2 linked regions of the Homo sapiens genome follow. The protein of the gene in region 1 purifies or fractionates together with the protein of each later gene. This does not show direct contact. Each region holds a gene or a part of one and is shown on either strand. Other genes may lie near its edges.

The links. The genes of interacting proteins can lie anywhere in the genome.
Region 2: the proteins of CDKL5 (region 1) and SAR1B purify together in Homo sapiens (affinity purification with mass spectrometry, with the first as the bait; one large-scale study listed by BioGRID). This does not show direct contact.

What each region holds. Positions count from the first base shown.
Region 1 is NC_000023.11:18,607,094-18,610,694, reverse strand, and holds part of CDKL5 (cyclin-dependent kinase-like 5), read right to left. Parts: intron 1,885-3,601; coding exon 1,783-1,884; intron 1,231-1,782; coding exon 1,125-1,230; intron 1-1,124. UniProt on the Homo sapiens protein: Mediates phosphorylation of MECP2. May regulate ciliogenesis.
Region 2 is NC_000005.10:134,615,743-134,619,343, forward strand, and holds part of SAR1B (small COPII coat GTPase SAR1B), read right to left. Parts: intron 1-3,601. UniProt on the Homo sapiens protein: Small GTPase that cycles between an active GTP-bound and an inactive GDP-bound state and mainly functions in vesicle-mediated endoplasmic reticulum (ER) to Golgi transport.

The sequences.
Region 1 (3,601 bases):
TCAATGTCTCCTAAGTTTGTACAACCCCAAAAGCATCTGTTTTAGTTGTCTGCTAAATAACAAAGTACATTTTAGCCCGTGCAAGTACACTTGAAATTTTTCTTTAATTCAATTGACAAATATTTATGAAACTGTGCGAGGCAGTGTACTAGTCAATGAGAATAAAAAGAAGAGAACACGAAGAGAACTGAATGTCTCACAACCTTGTGAGAGAGAACTCAGACAAAGAATCAGTGCAATGTGGTCAGTGTTACATCAGAGTTACAGGCAAGGTACGACAGACAGAACGGAGAAGAAAATGTTTCAGTCCATCTGGAACAAACTGTGGGAAGATATTATACTGAAGAGGACCTTAAAGAAAGGGACAGAAACAAGCTGTTCCAGCAGGAGGAAGAGTACATTACAGGCCAGAGGAGGGCACAGCCTGTGCAGTCCCATAGGCTGGGTACGAGAGAGACCTGGGGGGTGGGGGAGAAAGTGGCTGGAGAGCATGGCAAGGGCCAGATCATGGGAAGTCTGGAATGACATCCTAGAGAATTCAGATTTTGTCCTGATGCCAATGGGAAGCCACCAAAAGACTCTCAACAGGTGAGTGATAGGGGATTAGGAGTAGGGTGGGGTGGGGTGGGCAATGGGATGCCTTGCTCTATTTTTTCCCCCCTTGTAGCACTTAATATCTTTTACTGCTCTATATAATTATTATGTTTAGTGTCCATCTCTCCTCCCGAGGAAGTGAGTTCCGTGATGGTGAAGATCTTTGACTATCTTGTTCACCAACAAGTTCTAAGCCAGAACAGTGCCAGACACACAGGTAACATCAATAAGTATGTTATGGCTTGACAGAACAAAATGAGTGGTATGGTCAGAACACAGCTTCAGAAGGATCACTCTAGTCTCTATATTGATGGGTACCTTGGAGATAGGGAGACCAGTTAAGAGGCTACCTAAGGAGGCCAATTCATAAGCCAGGAGGGCCTGACTTAGCAGGAGCAGAGGCAGGGAGAACCGCTGGAAGGCGACAGTGTAGGTGAGAAGGCCGCTGGCCTGAGTCGGTGAAAGCAGTGTGCACATAAAGTGAGAGAGGGAGGAGAGGGGAACCTGTTGAATGCCGGGGGTGGGCTTACCTCTGTAAAAGCTACCAACTCTCCTTGGCACAGGATCATTGTATAGGTGTCTATTTTCTTTGGGGGCTGTGCCATCATCAGAGTGTGGGTCATGATACACTCCACCCTGAGGCAGGAAAGAAATTTATAAAAGTTAAGCCACACATTGATGACAATATTGCCTATGACTTTTTTCTTGAGACAGGGTCTCACTCTATTGCCCAGGCTGTAGTGCAGTAGTAGGATCATGGCTTACTGTAGCCTTGACTGCCCCAGTTCAAGCAATCCTCCTGCCTCAGCCTCCCGAGTAGCTGGGACTACAGGCACACGCTGCTACACCCAGCTAATTTTTTAAACTTTTTGTAGAGATGGGGTCTTGCTATGTTGCCCAGGCTGGTCTTGAACTCCTGGACACAAGCAATCCTCCCACCTCAGCCTCCCAAAGTGCTGGGATTACATGTGTGAGCCACCTGGCCCAAATTTAGAACCGTACCTAATCAATCTATAATTGACTTAATGATCTTTTTGAAAGAAAACTCAGAATTATGCCACAAGGAAAACTACTTACTTTATAAGCCACTTCAACTTATTTGTGGGAGACTGGGTATTAATACATTTTAAAAGCTAGGCAGTAATGATGTTGAACAAATGTTTACAGGCATATTTTATTGTGACATACCTCAGACTTCTGGCGTGTATGGAAGGAAGAGGTGCCTTCTCTGGAGGTCTCTTTGACCGAAGATCTTGCCACAGTCATCTCTGGAGGGAGCTGTTCTCCAGGCTGGAAGTAAAATTTAAAAGGATTTATAAGAGCATCCTGTTCCTAGGGATGGAACTCATCATGGCCTTTATTTGGTAGAACTAGGACCATAACCAGCTAAAATAAAAAATGTTAGTTGGCTAAAATACAAATAGTCCCATAAAAGTGAATAATCTGATGAATGTAATATAAGTCAAATTTCACACAGATGGAAAGTAAAATTCTCATTAAAGTTAAGGCAAGCAGAGAACAAATTAGTCTGAAAATAGTTCAATTAATTATTAAAAACAAAAAAAATTACCATTCTAATATCTAGACAGTCATGGTTCTGAGCGGCCCTCTGATTAGGAATTCTATTAGTTTATCTGAAATTTCTCTAGCAGATTTTAAGTCTGAGTTCTCCAAAATGAACTGTGCAGTTCCAAAAGTATATTTCATGCAGGACTTATATGGCAAAGTCAGATGAAAATAAATGATTTTTGAATATATCAAGGAATAGAGTAAGTCCTTTTAATAATTTTTTGTGTTAAAATCCTCTTAACTACTATAGTTTATGTGCTTAAATTCTTGTCTTAATCTTCTCTAGGATAACAGCACTTATGTTTCATGTATTTTCTGAAGCCAAATCATGATAGTGCTCATCTCCAAAGACATACCACTATCTTTCTCTCTCAAGGAAGTGAGTCACAAGCTAAGAACAGTACTCGGTCCACAATGGTGTTCACCGAGGGGAAAAAACACAGCATTTTCTATCATCAGAAAAAAAGATTAAGGAAGAAAATTACCAAGTCATTAGAAGGAGTTCGCTGCATCGTATATCTGTATATTATGCACAGAAAAGGGCATTACCTTAAGCCTATGTGACATATCAAAAACATTTTATTTAAGATTTAAAATATGATTATTTTTCTCCCTCTCATTCTCCAAATGTACTCTGAGGATTCTGGGCAGGAATTCATCCAACATAGCCTTCCTTCTTTCTATTTTATGAAAATGTCTCATTTGACTTTTACCACCTGTACTGTTTACAAAGGCCTCTACAAAAATTATTTTAAGAAAACAAATTATTAACATCTAATATAAACTCAGTAAGAGTCTCTGTGCTTTTCAAGGTGGCCCGATACTTTGCATGGGAGTGATTCCTAGGATTCACTCACAGCTTAAGTTACTTTTCCAGCCTTCTGGTATCTTTGTGCTTTTAAACTTGTACTTTCTTGCAGCTGGGCACTGTACCTCCTGAACTGGCCTTCACAGTCTGTAACAGATCTGTGCTTAGCCCACAGTAACTGTTTATAATTCGTTTATGACCACCATGTTCACAAAAATTCTTTTCCTGGAATTCTCAGAGAGCAATTACTTTTTCTAAGTTAAAAAGCTATTTGTTTTTCCGATTTCTTCTCCATTTTATACCATGCTGAATGCTAGCACATTTTACCCAATTTTCCCTTCCATGTCTCCTCTGCAGGAAGCTGCCAGATCTTTCTAGGCTCTGGAGGTTCTTTCTCCCGACAGCATCTCCTCAGGGCTCCTCTGACCATTCCTCTGACTCCACTTCCAGCCTCTGCAAATGGGCACCTCTTGCTTTCTCCTTTCACCTGGGTGCCAGACCATCTTTTTAGCCTCTTAGAGCACACTTCTGCTTAGAGGCCAAGGTCACTTCAAATTCAACATGTCCGCAAGACACCAGTGGCAAGCAGCTGGCCTCAGCACCTGGAGCTTGCCTCATAATCCCAGCTCC
Region 2 (3,601 bases), on another chromosome or scaffold:
GGAGGCGGAGCTTGCAGTGAGCCGAGATTGCACCACTGCACTCTAGCCTGGGCGACAGAGCAAGACTCCGTCTCAAAAAATAACAATAATAAATAAAGAAATTCTGTATGTAGGCCAGGTGCAGTGGCTCATGCCTCTAATCCCAGCACTTCGGGAGGCCGAGGCGGGTGGATCACTTGAGACATCAGGAGTTCTGAGACCAGCCTGGCCAATGTGGTGAAACCCCGTCTCTACTAAAAATACAAAAATTAGCCAGGCGTGGTGGCAGATGCCTGTAATCCTAGCTACTAGGGAAGCTGAGACAGGAGAATGTGGCAGGCGGAGGTTGCAGTGAGCCGAGACTGGCCACTGCACTCCAGCCTGGGCAACAGAGCGAGACTCCATCTCGGAAAAAAAAAAAAAAAAAAAAGGGCAGGGCACACGGTGGCTCATGCCTGTAATCCCAGCACTTTGGAAGGCCGAGGGGGGCGGATCACCTGAGGTGAGGAGTTCGAGACCATCCTGGCAAACATGGTGAAATCCCGTCTCTACTAAAAATACAAAAATTAGCCGGGAGTGGTGGTAGGCTCCTGTAATCCCAGCTACTCGAGAGGCTGAGGCAAGAGAATCGCTTGAACCCGGGAGGTGGAGGTTGCAGTGAGCTGAGATCATACCATTGCACTCCAGCCTGGGGGACAAGAGCGAGACTTTGTCTCAAAAAAAAAAAAAAAAGAAAGAAAGAAATTCTATGTGTAGATTGCCAAATGAATAAAATATTTAATACAATCTATATTCAAAGTCACTGTTCATAAGGAAAAGATAATGCTTAGTTAGCAAACCACCTCTATGGTAATAATCCCCAATATACTTTCTGCTTTATAAAAGAAGTCTGAATTAGGCTATTTAAGATACAGAACACTGTTAACATCCCAGAAAGTCTCCTCTAGCCCCTTCCCAGTCAATCCCCATTTTCATCTCCGGAAGCAACCACTGATCTGAATTCTATCACCACAGGTTAGTTTTGTCTGTTCTAGAATTTCATATAAATGGTATCATACAGTAGATAACTTTTTATGACCAGCTTCTGCCATGTAGCATAATATGACTGAATGTATCAGTGGTTTATTCATCTTTCTTGCTAAGTAGCATTCCATTATTTATCAATTTCCTTTTTGATGGACATTTGAGGTGTTTCCAGTTTTTGGCTATTACAAATAAAATTAGTATAGGCTGGGTATGGTGGCTCACACTTGTAATCCCAGCACTTTGGGAGGCTGGATGGGAGGATCGCTTGAGCCCAGGAGTTCAAGACCAGCCTAAGCAACATGGTGAAACCCTATCTCTACAAATAAATTAAAAAATTAGCCAGATGTGGTAGCATGTGCCTGTAGTTCGAGCTACTTGGGAGACTGAGGTGGGAGGAACACTTGAACCTGGGAGGTTGAGGCTGCAGTGAGCCGCGATTGTGCCATTGCACTCCAGCCTGGGCCACAGAGTGAGACACTGACTCAAAAAAAAAAAATAATAATAACTCACCACCAACAAATAAAGCTAGTATAAACATTTTTGTACAAGGTTTTTGGTAAATGTATTTTCTCATTTCTCTCGGGTAAGTAACTAGGAGTAGAACTGCCAGATCATAGGATATATGTAGGTTTTCACATATGCTTTTTTTTCCTTTTCAAAAATGTTTTCTTTTCCACACCAGAATAGATCACATATGCTTTTGATTAATTAAAAAATATGAGTTGAAATGAATGTGAGCTGCAGGAAAGGTTGAGATAGCATCTGTTTTCCCCTAGTATCCAGAACAATGTCTGACATAAAGTAGGTGCTCAATAAATATTTGAATAAATGAAATAGAGCAACGTCAAAAAATTAAAAAATGACTTACACCTAATATTTAAGACCACTCTGTAGTCTCTTCCAGTTATGCTGGTTTTTGTTGGGTTTTTTTTCTGTGTTTTTTGTTTTTTTCGAGACAGAGTCTCCCTCTGTCGCCCAGGCTGGAATGCAGTGGCGCCATCTTGGCTCACTGCAACCTCCGCCTCCCGGGTTCAAGCAATTCTCCTGTCTCTGCCTCCCGAGTAGGTGGAATTACAGGCACGTGCCACCGTGTCCGGCTAATTTTTGTATTTTTAGTACAGAACGGGTTTCACGATGTTGGCCAGGTTGGAAATTACGCTGTTTTTGCAGACAATTTTATCTACTCAATTTCACCATGATCATTTTTTCTTTAACAGAATTGTTCTTATATCAGAATCTTACTTGCCAAGCCCCACTTTTTTCTCCTAATATAAAAAAAAGATTTGTTGGCCGGGCGCAGTGGCTGACGCCTGTAATCCCAGCACTTTGGGAGGCCGAAGCGGGCAGATCACGAGGTCAGGAGATCGAGACCATCCTGGCTAACACAGTGAAACCCTGTCTCTACTAAAAATACAAAAAATTAGCCAGGCGTGGTGGCGGGCACCTGTAGTTCCAGCTACTCGGGAAGCTGAGGCAGGAGAATGGTGTGAACTTGGGAGGCGGAGGTTGCAGTGAGTCGAGATCGTGCCACTGCACTCCAGCCTGGGTGACAGAGCGAGACTCCATCTCAAAAAAAATAAAAAGAAAAAAAAGATTTGTCAATTTCCTTTTCCAACCTCACTAATTGTTTTATAGATAAAATACTTTGTTTTGTTCTATCCTCATTCTTTGTTCTTTGAACATTTACTGGACTAAATAATTACAGTATTATCTACTTTTTGGTCCAGTTCTCAATTTTATATTCATTATTAAGGCTACACTTACTATTTCATAATTAATCTATAGATTAACTTGTCTTTAAACTCTGTGTCTATCTGATTCATAAAATTTTCACCTGTAAAAGTAAGGTCACAGGTTAAATTAGGTTTCTGTTTCTAATAATTTACCCACTTTAACATTAACTTTATTCTCAAATTCGTTACATAACCTTAAATGCAAAATAAAATTTATTAAATAATTTACAGAGTCAGCCAAGTGTGGTGGCTCACGCCTGTAATCCCAACACTTTGGGAGGCCAAGGCAGGTGGATCACTTGTGGCCAGGAGTTCGAGACCAGCCTGGCCAACATGGCGAAACCTGGTCTCTACTAAAAATACAAAAATTAGCTGGGCTTGGTAGCACATGCCTGTAATCCCAGCTATTCCAGTGGCTGAGGCAGGAGAATTGCTTGAGCCCAGGAGGCAGAGGTTGCAGGGAGCCGAGATGGTGCCACTGCACTTCAGCCTAGGCAACAGAGTGAGACTCTGTCTCAAAAAAGGAAAAAAAAAAAATTAGAGTCATTATTAAAAAACATTATTTTTGGCCAAGTGTGGTGGCTCATGCCTGTAATCCCAGCACTTTGGGAGACTGAGGTGGGCGGATCATCTGAGGTCGGGAGTTTGAGACCAGCCTGGCCAACATGTTGAAACCCCGTCTCTACTAAAAATACAAAACATTAGCTGGGTGTGGTAGCACATGCCTGTAATCTGAGCTACTTGGGAGGCTGAGGCAGGAGAATTGCTTGAACTCAGAAGGCAGAGGTTGCAGTGAGCCGAGATCGTGCCATTGCTCTCCAGCGTGGGCAACAGAGCAAGACTCCATCTCAAAAAAAAAAAAA